Regions from separate parts of the Homo sapiens genome. Here all the other regions are reported to be linked to region 1. The links are microRNA targets in miRTarBase. Many come from high-throughput screens and were not tested one by one. Region 1 holds a microRNA gene; each other region holds the end of a gene's coding sequence.
The links. Region 1 holds the annotated microRNA hsa-miR-7109-5p (CUGGGGGGAGGAGACCCUGCU, at 3,370-3,390, opposite strand). A microRNA usually pairs through its seed, bases 2 to 8, with sites in the 3' UTR of a target mRNA and lowers its output. Matches are read on the target gene's strand: a 7mer-m8 pairs with bases 2 to 8, a 7mer-A1 pairs with bases 2 to 7 and ends in A, and an 8mer does both.

Region 1 (7,113 bases):
AGCCTGCGCAGGTGGCTGGAGCTGAACAGAGAGGAGCCGGGGCCTGAGGACCAGGAAGTAGAGCAGCAGGTGCAGAAAGAGCTGGAACAGGTGAGGCCCCAGGCCATCCCCAGGTGTCCCTGGGGACGCCCCGGGCTGTGCTCCCTCTCAGCCCTGCCTGTCCCTCCATGGCCCCAGGTGGAAATGCAGATCCAGCTGCTGGCAGAGGAGCTCCAGGCTCAGCGCCAGCCCATTGGCGCCTGCGTTGCCCGCATCCAGGCCCTGCGGCAGGCCCTGTGCTAGCGTGTTCGCACCAGGAACGCAGGTGCTGGGCTGTCGGGGAGGCCTCAGGCCACCTCCAGGAACAGAACACAGTTTTAAGTTTGATTTTTTTTATTTCAAAATGCTTTGCAATTAAATGAATTACTGTTCAGAAGTCTCCCACTTTTCATACAAAAATACTGTGCTACTGATACAGTTGAAAAAATTCAATGATGTCTCTCCTGCAGGAGAAATTCACAGCATCCCCAGGGTCAACATGAAATCTGGCCCTGTCCCCGCCACTGGGGGCTCCCCAGGCCTGCGTTCCTGATAAACTGGGACAGGTTTTCCAGGCACTGACCAACTATCCACCAAGGGTCCTCTGCCTCCAAGACAGACCCTGAATCAATAGCAGCAACTTTCCCATATTTCATGTAGGGATATGTGGAGGGGGACAGGAACTCTCCCATTTCCCCAGCTGGGCCTACTACCTGCCTGCCCTGTTCACTCTGGTGCCATGAGGCAGGTTCAGTGATTGATTGGTCTTGCCTGCTGCAGAGGACCTGGCCAGCTCCAGAAGGGTCACTCATCAGGTCCTGCAAAGGTCTGTATCATTAATCAGTGTCATCAGTGTCCTCAGAAGACACTAGCAGAGTCCAGGGTGATGCGTTCAGCCACAAGCACAAAGACTGCTTTTTCTAAAGAGCAGGATGAGGTGAATGTGGGAACGGAAAGCAGTTGTCACGAAGGCTGTGTGGCTCTGCTGGGGGAGAGGCATCCACAGTCTGTGCCAAGGAGGCACCTCACCCTGTGCAGCAGGAGCGTTAAGGCCAAAAAACAAAAGGGGCCAACAGAAAACAGCTCAGGTGATGGGGGGAGGAGCAGCAAGAAAAAACGACAACCGAGACCAACTGAAGGTTCGGTCAGGAATGCAGGCTCTTCCGTCTATACAGTGTTTAAAAAGATCCAAATGTGACTGAGATCATTCCAGCCTGCACTTTTTATTTGTAGGCAGAAGGAACGGGATAGGTTGAGGGGCATGATGGGGGCTCTCGCCACCTCTTGTCTGCACCTCTGGAACAGGTGGTAGCCGAATCATTCAAGTCCTACCTGGTCAGACTCCCAACCACGCTGAGGCAGGCCCTTACCTGGATGGCCTCATGGGCCTCCCTCTTGAAAAGACCCTCACTCTGTTTGGAAAAGATCCCTTAGCAGCCATAATCAGGAAAGAGACTCTAGAGCGAGCCCAGGGCTTCCCCAAAGCGGATTTTCTGTCCTGTTTTCAGCTGGAAATTGAAGTCCTTGGGGGCCTCGAAGATGAGCACGATGGTGGAGCCCAGGTTGAACTCGCCCAGGTGCTCGCCCTTACGCATGGGGACGCCCTCTCTATTGGTGTGCGTCACGAAGCTGAAGTCATTGTAGGAGCCCTTGCTGTGCCTTGGGCTGTTTGTGTGCAGGTCCTGTGGTGATAGGCTGGGGGTCAGTGGGGCCCAGGCCACCAAGTGCACAGTGTCACCCCCACATGTGTTTGGAGTCCCACTCCCTCTGTTGCTTGTCCCCACCACCACCCAACCCAGCTCCAAAAGGGAGGTGGGGATGGCATCTCAGGGCCAGGTGGGCCTGCTCTAGCCAGATCTCACACACAGCCTTGACACCTGCTGTGAACTGGGCCCAGGGAGGACAGGGAACAGTGGGGCCCAGTGGTCTCCATGCATGGTGCTGGGAGAGCAGCACCCGTGGGAGCCAAGGCCGTTGGTCACAAACTGACACCCAAAAAGGCAGCCCCTGGGGGCAGGGTGGGCAGCAGACCTGCGAGTGCTGACCCCTCATGCTGTAACCAACATGAGCCACCCCGAGCTCAACACTCCCTTTCTGTTCCCTCCTCACTCTCACCTTTGACCATGGTTCCTAGCAGAAGCCAGGTGCCAGGCAAGGAGGTTAATTCCCTCCATCTCTTCCAGCCACTTCCAGCCAGCAGTGCAAGGAGGGAGGGAAGCCTCAGCTGGCTGGCAGGTGGAGCGGCCATTCTCAGGACAGCTGCTCAGCAGAGCCAGGCCTGACCAGAGCTGTGGCCTCCCTAGAATTCAGTCCCAACGCATCCGCCGCACAGCAGACAAGGCAGGTAGACCCAAGAGGTCTGGCCCTTGGGCTTTGGCAGGGCCTAGATCCTGCTTACCCGGTCAAAGTAGATGCGAATGGAGCCCACGTTGGTGGCCCCCACAGCTGTCAGTGAGAAGAAGCCATGTTTCCAGTCCCCCGTCAGGACCACCCGCTCGTTATGGCAGAAGAGCTCTTTGATCCAGCGAGCCATGCCAGGGTTCACTGACATCAGGGAGCCTGCAGAGGCAGGGAATGCCGCTACTCCCCGTCCAGAGCCCGGTGTGTCCACCCCATGGCAGCCAAGACCCAAAGGGACTCATGGCCTGTTGCCCCGATGTCACTCCAAATGCTGAGCTGACTGGGCCCCACGGTCCCCTGCCCACAACCAGCCTGCATAAAGCAGTCAACTCCTGGCCTCAATGACCCTGATCTGGAGCCTGGTCCCCCAACACCAAGAAGCTGAGAGCCTCTATATGAAGCCCACAGAGGCAGCTCCCCCCACGCTGGCCCCGGGCTGACCTGGGAAGTGGCGCCGGTGGGACACAGTCCAGTCGGTGGGGGAGTGGAAGCAGTGGTAGTCCCCAGGGGCCAGGTAGATGACACAGTGATAGAGCTCATTCCCTTCCCGGGTGACCAGCTGGTTCTTGAAGGAGTCACACGACGCGGCTGTGGAGTAGGAGCAGACGTGGGGGCCACCAACACAGTGAGCACCCAGCACGGAGCCCGAGTGTGGTCTGCACATGGATTCTCAGGGAGGCCCCACATGCCAGCCTCAGTTCCTTCCCCAGCATTCCCCTCCCTCCCGGTCCAGCCACACAGCAGCAGGGCTGCCTAGCCCCGCCTGTGCAGTGACCCACCTGGTGGGAAGGGCAGGTCCTCTGTGCACATACGCGGGCCCAGGAACGACTCCAGGGAGTAGGTGACCCCCTTTACCTGCTCCACCTCACAGTTCTTCACCTGCCCAAAGTTGAGGATCCTTCCATCCGATGGGCTAATCTGGAAGGGCAGGAGAGGCTTGCTGCCAGGGAGAGCAGGGTCTCCTCCCCCCAGGAGACAGCCCCCACCTCCCCTTGTCATCCTGCCCCTTCCAGATACGCTGGAGACCAGGGGGGCTGTGCTGGGGAGGCAGGAAAAAGTCCTGTTTCCTGCAGGAGGAAAGGGTCAGGCCTCACCACGCTGTGCAGGCCACAGACAGGCCGGGCCTGCGGCTTCAGCTTGCGCCGGAAGAACTCGCTGAGGTTGCGGTAGTGATGCAGGTCCTCCACAGCGGCCTCTTTCATGTTCACCCCAAACGTCCAGATGTACAGGCTGTAGACGGGCCTGCGCAGCCAGTGTGGCAGCTCCACCTGATTGAGGCGACCCCAGGCCCGTGACAGCAAGCGCGTTGGCACTGACTTGTACAAAGCCACCTGCAGGCCACAGGGCAAGGGGCTGAGTTGACCACACTGCCCCAGCTCCAGAGAGCCCAAGTAGTGTCATTAGCCCAGCTCTCACTTCAGGGGAGAATCTGCACCCCACGGAGGACACCAGGGCCCAGGTGCCCCACGCTGCTTTTGTGATGTGGCTGTTTCTCACTGGGAACCAGACTGCACCTGCCACACGGAGTGCTGGATTTACATACAACTCCAGTGGATTTCATCATTTCATGCAAAAGTCAAATAGCAACTGCTCCAGTCCCAGAACGGGAGACGCCCAGCAGTCTTACTTCTTAAAGTGGGGGTCGGAAACGGATCTGATCCTAACCACAGTGTGTGACCCTAGCCACGGTGACCCCAATATCACAGTGTGTGGAGAGGTGGTGGGCATCTTGCCCGTGGTCACTGCCCATATCCCAGACCACCAAAGGAGGAGGCTCCCAAGTGCATGGAACAAGTCTACAGCCCAAAGTGTGTCCCTCTGTCTTAACAGGAAGAAGGAGGATACCCTGAGCACCAACAGGGATTTTCAGATGCAGGTCTGCGATGTCACTGTCACCTGGGCCTGAGCTGCAGACACAGGGTCTGCAGCCCCCACAGGTCCAGCCAGCACTCTTGAGGGCCTGGATGCAGCCAGTCTGAGAAGCCCAGCCCTGCTGAGCCCCACCTTGGCCCCACGGCAGGACTTGTGTTCAACGTTCTACTGTGACTGAGCCAGGCCATAAAGCCATCTGCACCTGGGGTTCCTCCCAGGAGGCAAAGAGAAGTCATCCCCTCAGGCCCCTCTGTTCTCTCTTCCTTCAGGGAAGCCTGGAGCACCTAAGACAGACGATGGCCTGGGGACAAGCACTGGGTCCCACTAGATGGTCCCAGAGCTCTCCGGCAGGGCCAGGTACCCAGGAAGGGGCAGCCTCTTAAACTTCAGGTGCTGCTGCCACTGTAGAAGCTGCCTGTAATTGGTGGCTGCTGCTTCTCTAAACACAACCAAGACACCAACTCCCCAAGGTGTAAAACTGATTTCATTCCAACTTTCAACACCTCTCCAAGGTAAGGTAAGCTCCCAGAGAGCTGCTCTTATCCCTTCCAGCTGATGCCCAGTCACACAGAAGGGCTATGTGAGCCCAGGCCCTTCCCAGGCACAGGTGGGAGCCTGGGCTAATGTCCAGGGTGCCTCAGTGCCCCTGAGCTCTGATGACACCCATGTGACTGTCAAAGGCCCAGGAACAGGGTTTCCTCCTTGGGGTCAACCTGCCTGGGAAGCCAAGGGCAAGAGCAAGCCCTCTAGGGACCAGGAGAGGACAAGCCAGTTCCCTTGCCCATTCCTGGGGCATGCCTCTGGGTTCCTTAAGGGTGTCCTCACCCTAAGGGACCCAAACAGGATCCATCCATCCTGAACCACCCCTTTGGCATCCCGGAATTAATTTGGCTTCTGTTCAAAATCACCTATAAGCTCTTTTTTGCTTGAACACAGAAAAATCAGAGACAGACACCATTTTCTGAATCCCCAGACTGGGTTCCTTCCAGAACCAGAGCCCCAAATGGCAGACATGAGGCAGGCTAGGGGAGTGGGCAGGGCACGACATGCCCTCGCAGTCACCCGCGGCCCAGGTAGTGGCCTTCTCAAAAGCTGCCTTGGCCTTGCCCACCAATGAACCTTCCGACCCGGACCCCCTGAAGATGTAGCGGTGACCTCTGCTTCTGACAGCTCGCCACCACCTCAGTCTCTCCTGCACCCCAACCTCAGGCCTGCCCGGAAGGGAGGTCCGAGCCACAGGGGCCTGTGCACACTTACCCTGCTTACGGGCCTCCATCCCACCCGGCTGAGCGGTCTGAGGGCGCCGAAGGGCAGGAGGTAGTAGAGGACGGTCAAGGGCCAGGAGCGCAGTTTCAGAGCGGGTCTGGACATGCAGCTCAGCTGCCCCAGCCTCCGCCTCAGGGCCAGCTGGGGGAAGTGCAACCTGCAGGGCACAGGTCCATGCACAGCCAGGTCAGTGGCCAGGCTCTGGGCAGGACCCAGGAGGCTGCCACCTGCACCCAGGGCAGGATTCCTCCTGTCTACCCACCCTTGGCAAGCTGCCTCTCCATGGGGGTGATGGAGCCCAGCAAGCACTGGCTGTGCCCCCTCGTCCCAACCCCATTCTGATTCAGGGGCTTGGCTGCCTCTGGCTAGCGGACTCATTTCCCAGGCTCTCCCACCCGCCAGCCAGCTGGGGAGGACTGGGAATGTGGGGGCAGCCGCAAGAGGAGAGTCAGGCCCAGCTGCGGGGCACCTCTCAGCTGCAGCAGCTCCCAGCAAGGGCCTCCAGGCCCAAGCACCTGGGCCCAGGAAGGGGAGAGCAGGGTGTAGGGCCTGCCTCACATCCCTCAGCCTCCGCAGCCCAGGAGAGTGGGCCCCAGGGGCCAGCTCTGCCACACAGGCACTGGCACGGCAGCACATAGCGCTGAGGAGCTACGACCCAGCCAGCTGGGTAACCATTTGCTGAGTCTTCCGCTACCATCCTTTGCAGGATCTGGGATATCCTTTTCATGGTTCCAGGCCCCCCCTTTCCTCATCTGCTAAATTACGGGGCCAAGGCCAGACAAGATCTCAAAGGGAGCATTTACACTCCGCCTACCACCACCACACAGCTACGGCTCCATCCATCTGCATGGTCTTTCTATAACAGGCCAGGTTCTGAAAACCCATCCACAGGTTTGTGAACAAAACCTCCCCACCACAAGCTCTCAAGCCACCTGTCTGCTCTGCTGGGGCTGCACAGACAGACACACACACACACACACACACACACCCATCCCAAGCCCCTCCTTTCAGCAAAGGTGGACACACACACACACACACACACACACACACACACACACACACACGAGACCCAAGCCCCTCCTTTCTGCATCCAGCCTCTCTGTGATCCGGCCTCTCCCCACCCTCCCAGCACAAATGCAGGGCACTCAGCAGGGGCTCAGCTTCACCAGAGCCGCAGAGGCTGGACGGGCCTTTCCACCACAACCCTGGCCTCCTGCGCCTAAACAAGGCCCACCCCACCCTGTCTGTGCCTAGGCCTAGCAAATGCTCCTGAGGCCCAGGGTAGCCAGCAGGAGACCACACTGCCATCCACTCAGAACGTCCCCAGGTCTCAGTTTCCTCATCTGCAAAGTAACTGCATTTAGCTAATCTACGGCTGCCATCTGGGACTGTGCTCTCAAGAGAAGCTGAGTCCTCTCTCCCAGTTGCTGAGCAAACCAAGGAACAAAGCAGCATCTCAGCTGATAGCAGCAGAGCAGACGGCAGGCGAACCAGTGGCGAACCCCGCTCAGGCTCAGGCTCAGAGCTGGCTGCATCCACGCAGCTCCCGGGTGCCTA
Region 2 (7,113 bases), not on the chromosome of region 1:
CCACTTGCCCCTGACCCCCCTGCCGTGCCTCCCGCAGCCCTCCCATGCCGTTCCACTCCTCCCTGCCTCTGAGCCGAACATGATAATAAAAGCTATTATTGAGCGCTTACTGCATGCCAAGTAGCGTGCTGAGTTGGCACCTCCTGTTTATAGCCTGTCTCCTCTTCGGGATCGTGAGAATGAGCCAGGCCCTGTTAGCATCCCTATTCTACAGGCCAGGAGACCGAGGGCCAGGCAGCTCCAGTGACTGACTTGCCCACAGTCACATGGCTAGAGTCTGGTAGGGCTGGAAGTGGAACCCAGGTCTGGCTTTTGCATGTTTTTAAAGCTTCCCAGGGCTGCAAAGACACCAAGATCACAAGCACCTTTCACCGGCTTTGGGGGGGGGGGCTGATGTGTAACCCCCAGCTGCCTCCCCTCCACACACAATTCTGTTGATCTGGGGAGGCGCCGGGGGTGGTGAGAGAGACTCAGCCCTGTGGGGAACTGGGAGGCGCACCCTCTGCCAGCCCTGGAGGGAGGCTCCGACGACCGACCGTACCTGCAGCCTAAGCCTCCTCCCCCTGCCCACCACCATTGGCAGCGTTTGTGGGTCTGGTGCGGTGGGGCGGTGACCACGGACGGAGTGGGCTGGCTGTGCTCCAAGGCCCTCCCAAGAGATGTGCACCCCAGGGGAGCCGTGTGCAGTGTGTGGGGGGAGGAATGAGCGTTTCTATAAAAGGCAGGCTGGGTGAATGCACAGGCTCCGAGAACGGAGAATTTACCGACTTGGATTACTAGCTGGGCGTGGGACGCGGTGCCGTGGGAGGACATCTGCTTCCCTCTCTAGGACCCGACCCTCGGTCCACACCCACAGGGCAGGTGAAGCTGATGGAGGGGGCCTCAAGCGGGGTCCCAGCACCCCCAGGGGTTTGGGGTCAGCCCTGACTCCAGTACCCCTCCCTCCCCGCCTTCTAGGGATCCTTGAGGTCCCAAAGCCACCCCAGGGGACACTCCACTCCCACTAGCCTCCTGCCACTCGGGGCAGCCCACCCCTATCTATCTTCCTCTAACCGCCCAGCCTGGGGCTCAACTCCTTCCACCGGGTCACCCCCACTCTCTGCTGCCTTCTCCCCTCCACCTGTGCGATGTGATTTTGCCCTACTCTGAAACCCATCCCTGACGCCTGTCCCCAAGGTGCCCTGCCGGCTCTCCCCATCCACACTTGTCAGCTTCACAGTCACCAAGGGGCTCCTCACCCCAGGCCTCATCACACCAGTCAGGTGGCAGCTCTCCTCCCTGGCACACACCCCCAGCCCTGTGACCCCCAAGCTCTGACACTTCAGGGCCCCCACTTCCATCTTTAAGTCACAGGTGAAAGAGAAAGAGAATGATAACTTTATTCATGGTCACAGAATACCCCCGGGAAGGGGAAGGACCTGGCAGCAGGGAGTAACCACGACTGGTCAGTTGAAGAAGGTGAGGATGCTGGCCCCGAGGTGTACAGGAAGGGGGAAAATGTGCGAGGGCCTTTACGGTGGGCAGTGCCAGCTATGGCCCCCCAGCAGACAACAAGGCACAGTGGGGCTTGGGGACTGGGGGAGGCCAGCCCTGTCCGCCTGTCCTTGACATCAGGAGGCTTGTGAGTGGAGTCCTGCAACCCCCACCCAACCCCTGTACAACGGGGGTTCCATTTCTGAGACCCCCAAAGTATGGGGCATCTTAGAGGCCCGCCCCACAGCTGAGCATCATCTCAAGGACCTTCCCCCATGACGGGATCCTCAGAAAGAGCCAGGGCCAGCCGAGCAGAACCGAGGGGCAGGGCGGGGGGCCTGGTGTGGCCTCCTGCCCGCCATGCCCCTCACCTGGCAGGGGTGGCTGCCCGACCCAGAAGCTCCAGGGGCACCAGGAACGGGTTCAGGGGACAGATCCCAGCTGCTTGCCAAGGCGATTTCAGTTCGCTGTGCTCGGCCTTCTCGGTGGCTGGGGGGGTCTCCTCTGGTGCCTTGGAGCCAGCCCCATCCCCTTCTGCTGCAGGCCCCAGGCTCCCTCCAGCGGGAATGGGCTGGGGGGCTGTCAGGCGTAGGTACGTCTCCGTCATATGCTCAACCAGGGCTGTGCAGGGCAGGAGTGGCAGCTCCTCTGGAAGTGACATGAGCAGGTCGAGGACCACAGCGGACTCTAGTGATGGATGGAGGAGAGGGGTAAGGGGACACCCCTGCCTGCTGCCAGGGACCCTTGATCCCTCTGCTCCTGCCCCCTCCCTCACCCTTCTCACCAGCTGCTGAGAGCTCGGGGCTGCGGCCACTTCGGGAGACAGAGGACAAGTACTTGTAGATCTTCTCAAAGTCCACAGCAAAGTCTTCTTCAGTGGAGGGACCAGCCGACGACTCAGAAGGTTTCTCAGGGGCAGGGTCAGGAGTCCTGGGTGCGGAGCTAGGTGCAGCAGGGGCAGAGCTAGGTATTTCAGGGGCGGGGTCTTCCTGTCCTCCAGGGGCGCTCAGGAGCAAAGGCTTTCCACGGGCCTGCGTGGGCTTGGGGGGCTTGGAGTGCAGGAGGGTGACCGGTTCCGTGGCCGCGATGGTGAGCACCTGGCAGGCAGAACAATCAGGGAGGAAGAGGAGCTGGGAAGTCTTCTCACCGTCTACACATTCCCCCATCCTCCCTGCCACCCTAAGATGCTCCTCAGACAAGAGATGGCCTCAGAGCCAGGGACACTGAGGCTCGAGGTGTCCAGTGACTGACGGAGTCCACAGAGCTGGCAAAAGGGCCCAGGACCCAGGTTCACATGATTTGGCCCATGTGACCCTGTCCTCTGGGACACCCTGACCTGCCTGGGGGAATGGCGGTACCTGCGAGAAAGCCACTGCCAGGGCTTCTTCCAGTGGCCCTGTTATCTTCTCAGCCAGATCCGTCCAGACCTGAGTGAAGCCAGAGGTACAGGGTCAGCCCAGGGATCAGCCTGCAATGGCCCCCCAAGCCCTGCTCCTCCTGGGGATCCCCTAATCAGGTTATCCCCCGCAACTCCCACCTACCCACCAGGGACCTGCCCTGGACAGCCTCACCCTGTTCATCTGCCTCACCTCTATGGGGGCTGGGGGCTGTGCCTCCCGGCGCCTTGGTCCCTGAAGGCCACCCGGATGCACTTTCTGAATGGCCTCCCGGGCTACGCGGCCCTTGAGCTGCTGGAGGAAGACCCGGATCTAGAAAGGAAAGAGGCGGCGGAATGAGGCTTCTATGAGCTCAGGGCTGCAGCAGAGAAGCCAAAGCCCAATCCCTTGTATGCTCTGGGCCCCGCTACTGCGCCTTAGTCTCCTGCTGGCCCGGTGTTAGGAGTCCCAGTGACTGCCAAGGCCCCTACCCCACCCAGAGCGTGACCAGCTACCTAAGGAAGTTGTAAGGCCCAGGCCAGTTCCGGCTCCTTCACGCAGCCAGGGCCCAACCCTATGCTGACTACTACCCCGTTCAACTCCCTTCTTCGTCCCCTCTTCTCTATTCCCTCTCACTTCAAGCTCGTATCCTGTCCAACAGCATGCGTTGCTTTTCGCCCGGACTCGGCAGCATCTTACTCCCAGTTCATTCCGCCCGTTTAGCCCTCGCCTCACCCACGCATTACCCCGAGGCTCGCCCCGCCTTTAAAGCTTGCCCTCATCCCGCCCACGCCCCTCCCACGCCTTACTCCCAAAACGGCCCCGCCCTTAAGTCTTGCTATTAACCCGCCCACGCCCCGCCCCCAGGCTCGTCCTGCCCCTCAAACTCACCCACCCACTCTCCAAACCTCAGCGGCACGCACGCCCCGCCCCCGGCATCGCCCCGCCCCTCCGCTTCACTTATGCCCCGCCCACGTCTAGCTCCCAAGCTCGCCCCGCCCCTAGGTCTTCTCTTCCCGTCCACGCCCCGCCCCTCACCCCGCCCAGGCTCACCCACTAACGCCCCGCCACTCAGCCCCACGCCACGCCCCCGCTCGCTTACATTCCTGGCCCCGCCCCGCTGGCTCCTGCCGCAGCCCCGCCCACTCTCCGCCCCACCCCAGCCCCGCCTCCAGCCTGGCTCCGGTCCCGAGAACCGCATCTCACCTCAGCCTCGCTCCGGCCCCGCAGCTCCCGGGCCAGCTCGGTGGCGTCCGGCTCCGGCTGGCCCTGCCGCGCCTGCAGGAGTCGCACTAGCTGCCGCTTCTCGCGAGCGCTCCAGGTCGCGGGACCGGTCACCTCGCCCAGATAGCGCGCCGGGGCCGCTCGCCGCCTGGGAGGTGGCTTCATGCCGCTCAGAAAGAGGCAGGCGCTGTAAGGTCGCTTCTCCGATGGGCGGAGCTACGGGGGCCGCCGAGGTCAGAAAGAACCGCGCGGAGGCGGACGCGCGTGGGGGCGTGGCTTCGCGTTTGGAGGCCCGGGGAACCGCCCCAATGGAAGTGAAGGGGAGATCGGCACCGGAACTGGGGCGGGGCGAAGGAGACCCTCAGCCTGCACTTTATCTCATTCATGAAGTGGAGACGACACCTTGGATCCCATGCCCTCCCTCTGTTGCTGGACTAACTCATGAAGCTACTACTGTGTGCTTTGCTTCTCGCAGAGGGGTGGGTTCTGGCCGAAAGGTCAAGTCCGAAGATCCAGTCGGTCAAGAGCCTGGGCTCTGGGGTCAGACAGGCCTGGGGACTTTGGGCAAGTGATTTAGCCTTGCCGAGCCTCAGTTTCCTCCTCTGTAGACTGGGGCTGATAGTCCCACTCTTGTCTGTGTAAGGTAGAGTGGAGCTCGGGCAGGAGGGATTTAAGGAGCTCTAGACTAGACTGACAATCTAAGAGGAGGGCGAAGTCCAGACCAGGAGGGAACTGGAGCAGAGGCAGAAGGTCGAAGCGGAGCTAGGGCAGGGTCCGGGCGGGGGTAATGGAGAGCGGAGAAGGCCTGGCTTGAGAAAGATCGCAGGAGGCAGATGGGCAGGTGTCCGGGTAAGGAGAGGAGGGAGGGGGAAGGTTTATTTTAAACTTACGCTTGTGGGGTTGGGTGCCGCTTTTTTTTTTTTTTTAGACAGATTTTTGCTCTTGTTGCCCAGGCTGCAGTGCAATGGCGCGATCTCGGCTCACTGCAACCTCTGCCTCCTGGGTTCAAGCGATTCTCCTGCCTCAGCCTCCCCAGCAGCTGGGATTATAAGCACGCGCCACTACGCCCTGCTAATTCTTTTTTTGTTACTTTTTTTAGTAGGGACGGGGTTTCACCATGTCGGCCACGCTGGTCTGGAACTCCTGACCTCAAGTGATCCACCCACCTCGGCCTCCCAATGTGCTGGGATTACAGGCGGGAGCCACCGCGCCCGGCCGGGTGTCGCTTTCTGTTTGAGACAAAACGCCCTACAGTCTCCCATGGCCTGGGAGTGCACACGGGTATATGGGCATATGGGCCCCGTCCCCAGGCTCCACCCCTGTAAGTCACGATTTCTCAGGAATACCCCCCAAGTCCTGCTCCCAGCTTTCTCCCCAAGCCTCCCCACCTATCCCCCACCCCGCACGTTGCGCGCTCACTGACTGCACCAGAACTTAGCCGGTCAGTCCAGAGGTTTATTTTGAGCACAGGTGGGAGGGACAGGGGGAGGAGAGAAGCGCAGGGGTCGTGGCCTCATCAGGTCCGAGGTCCAGGGAGGCGGGTCCGGTCCTGTTGGTCCTGGTCCCGAATTGGTAGCTGGGTGTATCTCCGGACCATGTTGGGGGCGCACCATCCCTGGGAGGGGTGGCTGAGGCTCAGCGAGGGAGGGGACGCTACGCGGGCCACCTCCCTTCCCAGCAGACCACTAGCCTCTTCCATCGGTCTGCATGCCGGGGTGAGAGTGGGAGCCGGGTCCGAATGCTGAGTTCTCCTCGCCTAGTGCCTCTCCTCACCTAATGCCCCTGGCTCGACCCAAAGCCCGCGCCTGCCGCGGGTGACCCACTGCCTGAGTTCGAATCCAAGCTCCACCCAGTATTGTGACTTTTGACAAGTTACTTAATTCAGAGAATGCCTCATCATTCTCGTCTCTAAAATGGGGATTATAATAGTGTCCGCCTAGAGGTTAAGGGGATTAAGTTAGTTCATAGGCGTAAAACATTTACAACAGTGCCTGGAGGCTGGGCGCAGTGGCTCACGCCTGTAATCTCAGCACTTTGGGAGACCGAAGCGGTAGGATCACCTGAGGTCGGGTGTGCGAGACCAGCCTGACCAACATGGAGAAACCCCGTCTCTACTAAAAATACAAAATTAGCCGGGTGTGGTGGCGCATGCCTGTAATCCCAGCTACTCAGGAGGCTGAGGTAGGAGAATCGCTTGAACCCGGGAGGCAGAGGTTGCGGTGAGCCGAGATCGCGCCATTGCACTCCCGCCTGGGCAACAAGAGCGAAACTCCGTCTCAAAAAACAAACAAACAAACAAACAAACAAACAAAAAAACCACAGTGCCTGGCACGAACTAAGCGCTAGGAAGCGTCACTGTCAGATCTCCTACCTCACCCAGCTCCCTCCACCTCCATACCTACCTTCCTCACTGGGACCTCCTGGGCTGGGGACCGCTGGGCGAGGCTCTCGCGGGCGGGCCAGGGGCGTGGGGCGCTGGAAGGGAGAGGCGAGCTGCAGAAGGGCTGCTGCGCGCCACGCCAGGCTAAGGGCGGCCCCTGGGGGCTGCTGCGGGCATCGCGGAGGCAGGCCTAGCTAGGGTTGATCAGGCCCCGCAGGCGGGATCGCGGCCGCCCCGGGTCCCGACGCGCGGGATTAGACTGGGGGCCCGGCTTGGCGGAGGTCGTCGGTACCTGAGTGCGCACAGACGAGACCCAGCCCGGCGGCCAGCGCGGCGCCCAGCACGAAGGCTGCCAACACCAGCGCCACCACCGGCGCGGGTTCCAGGGCCGCGGGGGCCGGCGCGGGAGGCTCAGGGCGCACTGCACGGCCGGGGACACTCTTGGGCGGCCCTGTGGGAAGTGCCACGCTGAGACTGGGTCCAGCTCCCAGGCGTCCTTCCCACCCGCTCTGCCGCCCCACGGCCCCATGCGGAGGAGGACTGCGTGCTCACTGGGGGGCGGCCGCGGCACGGTGACCACGATAGGCTGCGTCAGCGTGTGCAGGTGGGGGCCGTCAGCAGCCAGGCCCTCGGCGCTGCCACTGCCAGTGTCGGCGCACG
Region 3 (7,113 bases), not on the chromosome of region 1:
GGGTTTCTCCATGTTGGTTAGGCGGGTCTCGAACTCCCAGCCTCAGGTGATCCACCCGCCTCGGCCTCCCAAAGTGCTAGGATTACAGGCGTGAGCCACCGTGCCCAGCCTTTTTTCCTTTTTTTTTTTCGAGACAGAGTCTCACTGTCACCCAGGCTGGAGTGCAGTAGCACAATCTGGTGGCTCACTGCAACTTCCACCTCCTGGGTTCAAGTCATTCTCCTGCCTTAGCCTCTTGAATAGCTGGGATTACAGGCATAAGTTACCACGCCTGGCCAATTTTTGTATTTTTGAAGAGATGGGGTTTCACAATGTTGGCCAGGCTGGTCTCAAACTCCTGACCTCAGGTGATCCACCTGCCTCGGCCTTCCAAAGTGCTGGGATTGATTACAGGCATGAGCCACCATGCCAAGCCAGAGTTTCCAAATAAGGTATCAGGGATTAGGACTTCAACATGTCTTGGTGGGGGGGCACGAAATTCAATTCATAGCACCTATAATATTCAGGTGTCAGAAACAACACTGGAATCCTCAAGCTGAATATACAAACCCAATTGCCATGGTGACCCTAGCTTCTCCAAAGGCAGGGGTACCCAAGGGCTCAGATGGGATGAGAAGCTGTGGAAGAGATAGGGGCAGCTTTGGCCATTGGTTGGATGGTTAAGAATTGTAATGTGACATCAGAACAGTTCAGAAACCTGGCTCAGAAAGTCTTTTGTTGGTTTGAAAGAGTGGAGTGATCATGGCTCACTGCAGACTGGACCTCCCAGACTCAAGCAATCCTCCCACCTCAGTCTCCTGAGTAACTGAACTGCAGGCACACACCACCACATCCAACTATTTAATTTTTTTTTTTTTTTTTTTTTTTTTTTTTTGTAGAGATGGTATCTCACTATGTTGCCAGGGCTAGACTCGGAACTCCTGGGCTCAAGTGATCAGCGCTCCTACCTTGGCCTCCCAAAATGCTGAGATTACAGGCATGACCCACTGTGCCTGGCCAGCGGCAAGTCCATTCAATCAACAACTCTCTAAGAGCTTCTCATGTGCCAGGAGCTGGGCAAGGAGCAAGGCAGGCAGGATCCAGTCAATCACGGGCTCATGGGTTAGTAGGGTGACCAATAGCCAAAAGATAAGACTAATGAGGACACACTTATAAACCAGTATCTGTGCTCTGAAAGGAAGAAACTTGATGCCTTTGAGGAGACCCTCCTGTGGCTGCATTTTCCTCCTCTTTCATTCTCCTTCCCTTCCTTCCTTTCCTTTGCCTTTCTAACTACCATTCTCTTGGAGACCTGCGAGTGTTTCAACATCTCAGTGAAATAGAGGGACGAGAGCATCACCTAGTGGTCAGTGTGGGCATAGCAATGACCAAAACTGAACTAATCAGCTTGGGAGATGAAGGGCAAGGGGTGGTGGGGGTAGGCAGTGTGTGTGTCTGGCCCAGGTATGCACCTAACAGTGAAGTGAATACACTCTGGCAGATTCATGGCAATGGACAACAGCTCTTAAAGATTTACCAATTTGAAGCTGGGTACTCCCACCTCCCACAAAAAATAATCACTCCATTGTTTGGTCCTGACATAGCACGTCCCCTGGGGTGCCAGAAAGGCAGACCAAGTCCTGGCCAGGCAGGGTTAATGCTCAAGGAGAACCCTCCCATTTCCTGGCTGTAATAGCAGTGAAATCCTACCTAGCCTGGGTAGCTCTCACATCTGCTCCCATCTCCCTCCGCATTGCCGATGTCTCATCTCTTATCCCTGCATTGTCTCTAGGGTCTAATCAGACCCCCTTCCAATCCACTCCCACTTACACAGGTGTCAGAGGGATCCTTCTCAAACACCAGTCAGATCTGGGCTCAGAGCACTCCCTGGCTCCCAGTGGCTCCCTCACTTCCCTGTGACCTGGCTCCCACCGGCTCCCTCACTTCCCTGTGACCTGGCTCCCACCTAGCACTCTAGTTCACCTGCATCTCTACACGTTACCCTCTGCCATCTCCTCTATCCATCAGACACCTGTGGCAGCCTCAGCATCATACACACCCGCTCTCTATGCTCTGCCTGGAGCTCCCTGTCCAGTCTTGGTCAGCTGGCTAACTCCTGATCCTTGGAGAACCAGCTCCATCAGCACCTCTGGGCAAGGTAAGTTCCCCTTCTCAGAGCTCCCATCTTCTATCATCACACTGTGCTAGATGGGCCCAGGCTGGAGTGCGATGGCACATCTCAGCTCACTGCAACCTCCACCTCCTGGGTTCAAGCGATTCTCCTGCCTCAGCCTCCCAAGTAGGTGGGATCACAGGCGCCCGCCACCATGCCCGGCTAATTTTGTATTCATCATATTGGTCAGGCTGGTCTCAAGCTCCTGACCTCAGGTGACCCCCCCCCCCCCGTCTCTGCCTCCCAAAGTGCTGGGATTACAGGCGTGAGTCACCACACCTGGCCAAGACTCGGCCCTCTTTGAGGTACAGTGTCTGATTATGCTGTGATTCTATACCCAGCCCCAGCCCATTTCTAGACTGGGTCCCGGTACAACAGTGAACACTTGTTGAATGAATGAAGGCTCAGGTGGAAGTCCATCACTCATTCGACCATGAGCTCTGGGCCTTGCATTATATACTTTTATGTTTCCAAATGGATTTTGTTTTTGTGACCTAAGTTTTCTAGGTGTGAGACTTCACTGCCGCTCCTAGTCTGGAAGTATCCCAAGGCGGGGCCAAGGCAAGCACCAGGCTGGGTCCAGGAAGCTCCTGGGTAGAGACCACTATTGGAAAAATGGGGTTTCACAAGAGGGACTCTCCCACTCTGCCACTAGTCGGCTCCTGAAATGGGCCTTGTCTCTGAGGTGCTCCCCTAGCCACCCCTCCCTTTATCCCAGGACTTCTGAGGTTCCCACTTCAGCCTTGGTGGTGGGGAGCGGGTAGAGGAACATCTGTCACCTTCTTTTGGAGCCTGCTCCTAGGTCAGTGGGGCCAGAAATCAGTAGGGCAGAGATGGAGTGCTCATGCGTGCTGGGTTCCATTGGTGAGTCAGCACACCTACTGAAAGCCTGGGAACCAAACTTGCCGGGGTGGGGCGGGAGTGCAGAAAAGAAAGTGTTTCATGACCTGCTTGGGGGAAGGTTAATGCTCTGATGCTGGATAAACATGTTCCTCTCTTCTCTACCCCCCAGGATAGGTTTCTGGGCTGGAAGGGAACTTTTCTGACCCATCAAGAGAAATCCACTGCAGGCCGGGGGCAGTGGCTCACCCCTATAATCCCAGCACTTTGGGAGGCCGAGGCGGGTGGATCAGTTGAGGTCAGGAGTTCAAGACCAGCCTGGCTAACACGGTGAAACCCCGTTTCTAATAAAAATACAAAAATTAGCTGCTCATGGTTGCCCACGACTGTAATCCCAGCTACTCAGGAGGCTAAGGCTGGAGGATTGCTTGAACCTGGGAGGCGGAGGCGGCAGTGAGCCAAGACTGTGCCACTGCACTCCAGCCTGGGCAACAGAGTGAGACTCCGTCTCAAAATAAAAAATAAAATAAAAAAATAAAAAGAGTCCGGGAGCAGTGACTCATGCCTGTAATCCCAGCACTCCAGGAGGCTGAGGCGGGTGGATCACCTGAGGTCAGGAGTTTGAGACCAGCCTGGCCAACATGGTGAAACCCCATCTCTACTAATAATAAAAAAATTAGCCGGGCGTGGTAGTGCACACCTATAATCCCAGCTACTCCGGAGGCTGAGGCAGGAGAATCACTTGAACCTGGGAGGCAGAGGTTGCGGTGAGCTGAGATTGTGCCATTGCACTACAGCCGGGCGAAAAAATATATATATATATAAAATCGTGGTGGCTCACACCTCTAATCCCAGCACTTTGGGAAGCCAAGGCAGGTGGATCACAAGGTCAAGAGATTGAGACCATCCTGGCCAACATGGTGAAATGCCGTCTCTACTAAAAATACAAAAATTAGCTGGGCGTGGTGGCACATGCCTGTAATCCCAGCTACTTGGGAGGCTGAGGCAGAAGAATCGCTTAAACCCAGGAGGTGGAGGTTGCAGTGAGCTGAGATTGCACCACTGCACTCCAGCCTAGTGACAGAGCAAGACTCCTTCTCAAAATAATAATAATAATAATTAAAATAAAAAAAATAAAAAAGAGAGGCCGGGTGTGGTGGCTCATGCCTGTAATCCCAGCACTGTGGGAGGCCGAGGCGGGTGGATCACCTGAGATCAGGTGTTTGAGACCAGCCTGGCCAACATGGTGAGACCCCTTCTCTACTAAAAATACAAAAACTAGCCGAGTGTGGGGATACACGCCTGTAATCCCAGCTACTCAGGAGGCTGAGGCAGGAGAATCGCTTGAACCCAGGAGGCAGAGGTTGCAGTGAGCCGAGATCGCACCACAGCACTCCAGCCCGGGCGACAGAGAGATACTCCGTTTCAAAAAAAATAATAAAAAAAAATCCATTGCAGCCTTATCTCCGTGACAAGACTAGCAGACCCTGCTTTCTTTTTTTTTTTTTCGAGACGGAGTCTCACACTGTCGCCCAGGCTGGAGTGCAGTGATGCAATCTCGGCTCACTGCAACCTCCGCCTCCCAGGTTCAAGCGATTCTCCTGCCTCAGCCTCCTGAGTAGCTGGGATTACAGGCGCCCGCCACCATGCCTGACTAATTTTTGTATTTTTAGTGGAGACGGGGTTTCACCATGTTGGCCAGGCTGGTCTCAAGCTCCTGACCTCGTGATTTGCCCGCCTTGGCCCCCCAAAGTGCTGGGATTACAGGATTACAGGCATGAACCACCATGCCCGGCCTCAGGCCCTGCTTTCATAGTCCTGGTAACCCGGCTATCAGTCACTTGTTGTCTTGGAAAGTTGGACCCTTTTCAGAACCAAGACCAGTCTCCCTTAAGCTTCTACCATGCAGGACCTTGTCCAAGTTTTATCACTGCCTTTAGATGCTGAAGTCCAGGAGAAGCTAGGCCATCTTGTCAGGACAGTTTACATTCTTTCCATGCTTCTTGGGCCACCCCTGAGAGGGTCAGACAAGCAAACCCAAACCCCTTGGCCCTCTCCAGGGACTCATCAAGAGCAGGAATTTGGGGAGAGCAACGAGGGACAAAGTCTGGATGACAAAGCTCACTCCAAAGCTCAAGCAGAGATACTGCAGGGGAGGGAAACCTCCCTAAGAGCCCCTCCAGTCAGCCACAGAACGTATCTCTTGTCACCAGCAGGATTTATTTCAGGGTTCTGCCAGCAAAATGACTTATAAATACATTCTTCCGCATCTCCCCCTTTCCAGGGGTGCTGCTGAGTTGCATGGGATGAGATCTGCTTCTGAGATCCTGGGGCTGTATGCCACCCCCAACTCACCAGAGCTCTTCCAGCACACAGCAGCACCCCCACCCCCCAGCTGGCTTGGAGTTGGGCAGAGAAGCTTATGAGGCTGTTATCTCTCAACAGACAGCTGTGCAGGGCTGGAGGCAGCAGCTTATCAGGAGGCCTGCAGTGATTCACAGCCCAAGACCCAGCTTCTCTGCTGAATAGTAATTTCCAGCAGTGGATTTGTGCTCAGTCTCTCTCCTCCCCCTTTCCCAAGGGTGTGCTGTCCTTTCTCAGAGAGAGGGCAGTGAAGGGGAGATCCTACCCACAGAGCTGGGGGCTTTGTGCCAGCCTTCTGGGTAAGGTTCAGTTTATTGTCTGGAGGCTGCAGATTCAGGGACCTCAGCAGGGTCTGCCACCCTTTGCAGTGACCTCCAGGAGAGTTCATCGATGCTGTCCTTCCACTCCTTCCTTCCCCTCCCAGAAAAACAATGTGCCGCTCCCTTTCCCTTAGTGGCGATGTACAGGGGTACACGGGCCCCCATTTGCAACAGCCTCTGAGGCCAGGGCCAGCCCGGGAGGGCGGAGTGGGGGAGGAGAGAGGAAGAAGCCAGGGACTGGGCAGTGCCTTGCACCATTTTGAAGCTGTTCAGTCTCTGTGCCTGACCCTGAAGACTCCAAAGACTCAGGACGCAAGGCTGGAGGGGAGGGGAGACACAAGGGGCCAGGCGAGAGCTGTCTCTGCACAGGCGGGTGGTTAGAAAAAAAATGGGGGACACAGCCATTTTTGTGCTTGTTTTATTGGAAGCAAGACTCCAGCCAGCTGCAGGGCTCAGGGGAGGAGGCCTGGAGAGTTCAGTCCTGGGTCTCCCTCTGGGCCAGCAGGGGGAAAAGGGGTGTTAAAAGAGCTAGAACCCTCAGAGATGCTCCTCTGAAGCAGGGGAAAGAAAACTAGAAAGGAAAACTGTCCCAGGGCGGGGAGCGGAATAGGGCCCCCACATCTCAGACTCTCCTACCCTCAAGCAGTTAATTCTCACCCCCTGCCTTCCTCTGTCAACGGTGGGGGTGATTCCAATAACTCTTCTCAGCTTCCATACTTCAGGTGCTCTTCGTGAATGCTGGGTGGCTTTAACCCTTGGGGGTCCCAAACAAGTTTCCAGAATCCCACTGTCCACCATTCTCCCCCAAAGAAGGTCCCAGAAAAGGTGAAGTTCCGTGTCTTCACGCAACACGGGCATAAGCAGCAATTATCGCACGAAGTTTCCCTAGGGTGGTCGGGGATCCTCTCCTGCCACTCCTGGGGCCCCTCTCTTGTCGCCTTAAGGTCCATGCTACCTGTCTTGAGGAGCTGTGTCCAGGTTGTGGGCTCCGGAGGACCGAGGAGTGAAAGGCTGGAGGTACATCTGAAGGTGGAGGCGCTGGCGGAAGATCCTGCCGGACTAGGTGGCCCACAGTCCGGAGTTTCAGGCCGTCTGATCCTCGTCCGCAACCCCTGGCTCGGGTTGCGATCGCTTCGCGGAGCCTTCTCCAGCTGCGGGTTCCCCTAGGCTCCTCTTGGACGCTGGCGCGGCTGGCGGGGACGAGGGACCAGGATGGGGATTCGGGGGCTGGTAGCCGGGCTGTCGCGGATCCAGCGCGTCCTTGGAAAGTAGGATGGCGAGGCCGGGCACGTTCTTAAGTACGCTGAGACTAGCGGCCGGCTCGCCAGGCGTCTGACCCTGCGTGGGCCCAGGCGGGAGGCTCTGCCACACCTCGCGTACGCTCCGGTAGCGCAGCCGCGTGACCTGGTGCAGGCCCGCCAGGCGGCGCTTGAGGAT
Region 4 (7,113 bases), not on the chromosome of region 1:
AAGGAACCGTAAGGCTTAGATTCTTTAACCATACTTTTTATTACTTTGTTTAGGCATAGGTTTAGTCTCTCTTATCAAGAGATCAGAAGCTGAATGTGGAGGCAGAATGATAGAGCAAATGATAGAGCGGAGCAGTGCTGCTAAGCAGCTAGGCATTTTTCTAGGCACTTCTCTGCTGAGGCTGTTTTAAGTAGGTGGACACCCTGTAGTTCATATATTTGCATGTTTATAGTTTGTAACATACAGAACATGCTTAGTCAAGTATAGATATTCTTTGTAATTAACCCTCAGAATAGTATGTATTCTGATCCCTTGTTCTTTATTCTCCAGGCACCATACAGGAAGATTACTTGAGAGAGCTGCTGACAACCATGGGGGATCGGTTTACAGATGAGGAAGTGGATGAGCTGTACAGAGAAGCACCTATTGATAAAAAGGGGAATTTCAATTACATCGAGTTCACACGCATCCTGAAACATGGAGCCAAAGACAAAGATGACTGAAATAACTTCAAATTCCAGCCAAACGTTCCTTGTTGCCACTTTGGGTATTCTGAGATTTTCTCTTGCATGCCCTTAGCTTTACAGCTTTTGCATTTCCTGTTGTATTTATTCTCAGCCATTTTGGGCATATGTATCTTTATAATCAGACTGGAAACGGGACTTTCTATTAATATCATTTTCAGAATAAAAAATAGGATAATTTAACCTACCAGCCCTTCTCCCCCAATAACTGTGGTCTATACAGAGTCAATATATTTTTTCAGAGAAAGTTATTCGCTCGATTTTTTCTGAATCATAATTAAACTTTATGATAAAATACTTACTTGTTTAAACTTCTTATTTACCAAACTTGGCTTTTGTTGGTTTCAGTCGTATCTCCCAAAGAAAGGTAGATGAGGGAAATCCTAGAAAATGATATGGTTGTTAGCTTTCTCTTCCTCCAGTTTTCCTAACAATCCTATCTCCTCTACTATCCATTCCTCCTCCTCCTCCCAAGGATATCCAATTTTAACTGCCCTAATCAGGTTTTCTGCACTTTGTCTTCCAATTTTTAAAATAATTTCCTGTAGAATTTGCATATATGATAGTTTCCATAGCTTTAAGTCCTTAAGTTGACATACCTGCCAACATTTCCACTTTATTTAAACTTTTGTAATTTCTGGTCATTTAAAATTAGACCAGGTTACTGAGTATAATTTCAATTTGTCATATTTTTAAAAACCATTTTGGCTTAAAGGTTCTGTGGAATGCTACCAAAGAGAGATTTTTATGTTATGTTTTAAAGTGCTGGAAATATAATGCAGTATTTTTTTTATTATATGTAGTTTTTCTTTAACACAGCAATGTGTATTGAAAGATATTTGTTTATGCAGAGATTCACCATGAGTCCATGTTTGAGTTTTGGACATTCCTGACCTTCCCACAATCAAAACAGCTGAACCTGCATGCCTGGGAAAGTGAGGTCATTATTTCAGTCCTAAAAATAACTTCTACTATTTGCAGAAATGCAGAACTGTTTCACAGTTAATCAGGGAGTGGCAGACAGTTTCGTTCTTTTTCAGCTTTAAAAATCTGACTCTCAAAGGGCTTCAAGATTCTCTTTTTTTTCCAGACAGGGTCTCTCGCTCTATCACCCAGGCTGGAGTGCAATGGCACGATCACAGCTCACTGCAGCCTTGACCTCCTGGGCTCAAGTGATCCACAGCCACCTGAGTAGTTGGGACTACAGGCAGGCACCACCATGCCTGGCTAATTTCTTAATTTGTTGTAGAGACAAGGTCTCATTATGTTGCCTAGGCTGGTCTAAAACTCCTGTACTCAAGTGATCTTCCCACCTCTGCCTCCTAAAGTGCTGGGATTACAGGTGTGAGCAACCATGCCCAGCCCAAAACTCTGACTCTCAAAGAGCATGAGTTTTAAAAGATTTGAAATGGAGAAAAATTTGGTTGAAAAGATTTGACAATTAGCCTATGAAGATGAGTAATTGACAATTACTATAATAACTTTAAGTTTTATGCTACGATTAACATGACTCTCCTTGGACAAAACCATTACCTCATTCAGTAAACAATTACTAAAAGCCTTCTGGGCAGCAGGCCTTTGCAGCCAATAAGATAGATCAGCTAGATCCTGTAACGTGGGAAGGCCAGTGCTATAGGAATAGAAGGACTAGTCAAAGCTAGTCCTTGACCTCTTCAGCATTAGAATCTTAGAACCTGCCTTCATTCTTTGTCTTTTGTTTCTGAATTTTATTCACTGGTTAAGCCAAAATACTTTTTCCAGGCTATGGCCATGGTGCTAAAATCTTGTTTTTTGAATTGAATTTCCATGTCAAGAGAAAAAATTATCATATGCTTTGTTACATCTCTAGTGAAGAACAGATAGCATTGTTTGCACTATATGAAAAACAAGGTACTACTAAAAGGATCTCTTGCAGGGCCCCTGTTTCCCTTTCAGATAAGTGCTTAATGAACCAACTTGCATTAAGAACAATGATGTACCCTGAATGAAATAATTCTCCTAATTTAGTAATAGCATTCTTTGCTTAAACAAGAGTGATTGCCAACAGAAAGGTAAAAGCATCCATTTCAATGGTGTGTTTGACTGAAAAATCAGTCTCAAAAGTTTCCATGATGAAAGTCATACTTAAACCATTTCAAAAGATCTGGCTAGGCACGTTGGCGCACATCTGTAATCCCAGCACTTTGGAAGGTCGAAGTAGGAAGACTGCTTGAAGCCAGAAGATTGACATCAGCCTGGGCAACAAAGCAAAACCCCATCTCTACATAAAAATTAAAAATTAGCCGGACATGGTGGTGGGTGCCTATAGTCCCAGCTACTCTGGAAGCTAAGGTGGAAGGATTGCTTGAGCCCAGGAGTTTGAGGCTGGAGTGAGCTGACTGTGCCACTGTACTCCAGCCTGGGGTGACAGCGAGACCCTGTCTTGAAAAAGAAAACAAAAATCGGACAAAACCAGCCTAATGGGGGTGGCATCCTTATCCACCTGCATATGATGATATGGTCATTTTGATTCCAGGCCCCAAATTTTACTTGATGAAAGAATCTATAACTTGATGAGAGCAGGAATTGAATGCTCCTGGGAAAGAAAGGAGGAAGGCCTGAGCATAAGAGACAAGTAACAGCAAATTGAGAAGGAAAGGAAACCATTTGCTACAAAGTGAAAAGAGGAAGGACAGCAAGAGGCTTAACACCTAGACTTGAGGATCAGATAAAAAATGATCAGAGTTTGGAGAGGTAAATAGAGCCACAAAAACAGTCTTACGGAAACCTAGTTAATTTCAAGAGTAAGGAGGTTGGCAGTGTCCAACACAGAAAAGTGGAGTATGGGAAGGTTTAAATGAGACCCTCCCAGATGTGACAAGTCGTTAGTCATGTTTGCTAGAGTTATTAGAGTTCTGAGTGCAGAATCCATAATGCAGCACAGGATAGTGAATAATGCCTAGGTGTGGGGTCAGGCAGACCTACACTTAATTCCCGTTTGTTGCTACGTCATGGCTCTATAACCTTAAGTCAGTTATTTAAACTTCCTTGGCCTATTTATTCATTTATAAAACGGAAATAATACTGTTGGTTCATATTAGGAACATAATATATAAAGCAGCATTTGTGTGATTAAGAGCAGCACGGATTTGGAGCCATACTTAAGTGAATTGCACCTGCCTATTTGACTTTGTGTTCTTAATTGCCAGTTTCCTCATCTGTAAAATGGCCAATACCATCCAAGTTTCTTCTGAAAATTAGAAGCATGAAAGACAAATGGTCTGGGACACATTAGGTCTCCAAATAGTAGTTATTTTGTTTACGAGTGGGCCAGTGAGAAGGGGCAAAGGGCATATCTTCAAATTCAAGCCTGTTTATAGGCAGAGTAGAAGACAACAAACTAGGGGGGAACAATTAGTGAAACAAAATGGATCATGTCTAAGAGCTAGGATGTGACAGAACCTAGACCACGTAGGATTGCCCTTAGAAAAGTGGATGGATTTCAAGGTAGAATTTCATTAACAGGTTGTTAGGAAGATTTTATAAGACTATGCATACAAATGCCTGTCAGTTTGGTACTAGTGGATTCTGAAATAGTTCACTTTCGATTTCCTGAGCAGGTCCAATATGCCAGACTTGTGTGTGTCGAATTAGGTCCTCTTCACGGGTACAGTTTATTTTTTCTGTCCATAAAGGGATTGTAGTAGCTAATCCCACATTGAAGAAATGCCCAGTTTTCCCATTGCTGCTTATTCGAGTCATTTCCACTTGCTCTTCCATCTTCCAAGTCCCTATATCTTTTTAGTCTAGATTTCTCTGTGTCTGCTCAAATAGCAGGAAATGTGACTTTTCTCCAGTATTTATCCACACACATTTTAGAGTTGTAATGAGTTTACAACTTGTTTTTTCGTTTACTACTTAAATTATATCTCATGTTTTGGCATAGCCACCATTGTTTTGAGTATATTTCTTTTTCAACCATTCTTAACTTCAGTTATCTTTGATGTGGGCATGCTATAATTAACAATTTCCCAATGATAGATATTTAGCTATCCAGCTATTTTTATTAGTGAATAAATTTTTATTCATGATTAAACAAAGCCTATTATAGGCTTTTCTTTTGCATCTAGAGAGAACAATATACCTTAGAATTATTTCTTCAGAATAGTGCTGTCAAATAGAAGCTTCTGTAATTAAGGAAATGCTCTCTGTGCCATACAATAAGGACACTAACCACATGTGGCTATTGAGCACTTAAAATGTGTCTAATACTAGCCAGGCGCGGTGGCTCACGCCTGTAATCCCAGCACTTTTGGAGGCCCAGGTGGGCGGATCATGAGGACAAGAGATTGAGACCATCCTGGCCAACATGGTGAAACCCCGTCTCTACTAAAAATACAAAAATTAGCTGGGCGTCGTGGCACAGGCCTGTAGTCCCTGCTACTCGGGAGGCTAAGGCAGAAGAATCACATGAACCCGGGAGGCAGAGGTTGCAGTGAGCCGAGATCAAACCACTGCACTCCAGCCTGGGCGACGGAGCAAGACTCCGTCTCAAGAAAAAAAAAAGTGTCTAATACTGCCAGACGCACTGGTGCGGTGTCTCTCACCTGTAGTCCCAACTACTTGGGAGGCTCAAGTGAGAGGATCGCTTGAGGCCAGGAGTTCCAGGTTGTAGTGCATTATGATCACGCCTGTGAATAGCCAGTGCATTCCAGGTTAGGCAACATAGGGTGACCCCATCTCTAAAAATAAAACGTATCAAATACAACTGAGGAACTAAATTTAAGTTTAGCTGCATGTGGTTAGTGACGATTGTATTGGACAGCACAATTCTAGAAACTTTTTTTTTTTTAATTTAGACTATCGAACCAAAACCTAAGAGTAAATATTGTAGAACCAGGTGTGACTTTTCAGCAATTGCTTTTCTAACACTATTGAGAAAATACACACAGTTATGAACCGCGTTTAGAGCTGTGCTGCTGGGATGGCGACCACCCCATCAGCATCATGTGTGCTTACCAGAAATTCGAATTATCCTCCACCCCTTACTCACTGAATCCTGATACCCGGTTTTGAGGCTCAAAAATGTTTTTAAAAGCCCTGTTATTATGCGTGCTACTGTTTAAGAACTGCTACAGAGTGCTGAACACAAGGTCCCTCTCTTCTAGGAATTTCTGATCAAAGATTTCTAGAATATAAACTCCCTAAGAGGCTTTGAATTCATCTCTCAGCATCCGGCACATGTTAAGGCAGTAAGAAGAGTTCAATAAAGATTTGCTATTAGATTGCCGATCCTCCACCATCCTGAAGTAATGCTATTTTAGTAATGCTAGATGAAGTAATGCTAGATTACCTCAAGGTGAGGGAAAATATCCTGAAGAACACAGCCACAAACACGATCTAGAACAAAACCTGAAAAACGTAGCTTTGTGTTTTTATTTGTGTGTGCATGTATGTGTGTGCGTTGCCATTTTCTTGATAAAGGAAAGCAAGTAGTTCGAATAAAACTTTCTTGTGGCCAAAAGGGGAATCAAACAGCCGTAGGCTGCGGCCGTAGCCTGATACGGCCGTAAACCTTATGAGGGTAAGCAGAGAGGAGTAGGTTAAAGAATTTAACTCGGGCTGTAATGCGGTTTGAAAAGAGAAAGGGATTCTGGAACGGAGAAGAATCCGCCCAGGCGCCGCCCTCACCTTCTCAACATTACATGAGACGAACCCTAAAACCTGTCTTGTCTGAAATTCAAATTTAGAAGAACTGTACTTTTACTTGCTACATCTGGCAACTCAGGGTTCGGCGCCAGGGGACCCCAAATCCTAGGCGGATCGCGCCCCGCCTGGGTCAAAGGGGACCCCAAATCCTCGGCCGATCGCGGCCCACTCGGGTCAAATTCCAGCGGCCTGCCCAGCCGCGCCCAGCGGGCCCAGGAATGCGGAAGGGTGGCGGAGCTACCAAAGGAGCGGGGGACGAGGGCCGGGCTGCGGACGACCGCCGCAGCGCAGGCCGCGATATCGCAGCGGATCGGAGCAGGCCGGAGGGGCAATTAAGACCCCGGCCGTGTGCGTCCGGCCTCAGCAGCCCCGCCGCTCGGCGGACACGCAGACCCCGCCGGCCCGGGCGCGAACACTCAGCGCACCCCCGTTCCACTTGGTCCCGCCGCGCCTTCCGGTGCGCCTTCCGGTGCGCCTTCCGGTGCGCCTTCCGCTCCGCCCCTTCAGGCAGGAAGTGTCGGCGCCGCCACTGTCCGGCCACAGCCTAACGCTCTTCGCTGTCGTTTGTGGTCTCGCGCAGGGCGGCCCCGGTTCTGGTGTTTGGCGTCGGGTGAGTCGCGCTCGACTCTGCTCGCGAGACCCCTCGGGCCGCCGTCTCCGTACCCCCGCGCCCCCTCCCGTCGCGCGCCTGCGGCCGGACCCCGCCCCAGGGCGGCCAGGCGGCGGCAGGACCTGTCAGACTGGCTGAGAAGGGGGCGCGGGGCCGGAGGTGGAGGGAGGAGGGTTGGCGGCGGGAGGAGGGTTGGTGGCGAGGCCCTGGCCCGGACGTCCAGGGGCCGGGAGGCTGCAGGCGATGGAGCCGGTATGGGGAGACGCCCTGCTGGAGAAGTGGCCGGGTCCC

Region 2: the mRNA of TGFBR3L is a reported target of hsa-miR-7109-5p. Seed matches in the 3' UTR shown: 7mer-A1 at 5,672-5,678.
Region 3: the mRNA of RPP25 is a reported target of hsa-miR-7109-5p. Seed matches in the 3' UTR shown: 7mer-A1 at 6,432-6,438.
Region 4: the mRNA of MYL12A is a reported target of hsa-miR-7109-5p. Seed matches in the 3' UTR shown: 7mer-A1 at 723-729.

What each region holds. Positions count from the first base shown.
Region 1 is chr22:31,618,137-31,625,249 of GRCh38, forward strand. It overlaps MIR7109 (microRNA 7109), which reads right to left and starts at 3,395; the gene lies at 3,331-3,395. It overlaps SFI1 (SFI1 centrin binding protein), which reads left to right. Exons shown (of 33, transcript NM_001007467.3): 32 at 1-90; 33 at 178-452. The coding sequence ends at 282. It overlaps PISD (phosphatidylserine decarboxylase), which reads right to left. Exons shown (of 8, transcript NM_001326411.2): 4 at 3,513-3,749; 5 at 3,198-3,336; 6 at 2,860-3,006; 7 at 2,417-2,577; 8 at 355-1,700. The coding sequence ends at 1,476. RefSeq lists enhancers at 5,243-7,113, 6,337-6,890.
Region 2 is chr19:7,917,492-7,924,604 of GRCh38, reverse strand. It overlaps TGFBR3L (transforming growth factor beta receptor 3 like), which reads right to left. Exons shown (of 7, transcript NM_001419781.1): 4 at 7,006-7,113; 5 at 6,746-6,904; 6 at 6,476-6,548; 7 at 5,508-5,688. The coding sequence ends at 6,481. It overlaps SNAPC2 (small nuclear RNA activating complex polypeptide 2), which reads right to left and starts at 4,267. Exons shown (of 5, transcript NM_003083.4): 1 at 4,056-4,267; 2 at 3,063-3,182; 3 at 2,832-2,900; 4 at 2,258-2,570; 5 at 1,355-2,160. The coding sequence starts at 4,238. The coding sequence ends at 1,841. It overlaps CTXN1 (cortexin 1), which reads left to right. Exons shown (of 2, transcript NM_206833.4): 2 at 1-114. RefSeq lists enhancers at 2,437-3,039, 4,740-5,239, 5,915-6,790, 6,791-7,113 and silencers at 3,708-3,907, 3,988-4,217, 6,480-6,549, 6,670-6,759, 6,820-6,919.
Region 3 is chr15:74,949,225-74,956,337 of GRCh38, forward strand. It overlaps RPP25 (ribonuclease P/MRP subunit p25), which reads right to left. Exons shown (of 1, transcript NM_017793.3): 1 at 5,194-7,113. The coding sequence ends at 6,760. Among named protein-coding and RNA genes, the nearest start is that of RPP25, 4.0 kb to the right of the region's middle. RefSeq lists enhancers at 1,463-1,512, 5,364-6,297, 6,298-7,113.
Region 4 is chr18:3,255,416-3,262,528 of GRCh38, forward strand. It overlaps MYL12A (myosin light chain 12A), which reads left to right. Exons shown (of 4, transcript NM_006471.4): 4 at 331-821. The coding sequence ends at 503. It overlaps MYL12B (myosin light chain 12B), which reads left to right and starts at 6,718. Exons shown (of 4, transcript NM_033546.4): 1 at 6,718-6,822. MYL12-AS1 (MYL12A and MYL12B antisense RNA 1) reads right to left here and starts at 6,944. Exons shown (of 4, transcript NR_130145.1): 1 at 6,638-6,944; 2 at 5,857-5,915; 3 at 827-907; 4 at 21-423. RefSeq lists an enhancer at 6,114-6,163 and a silencer at 6,374-7,113.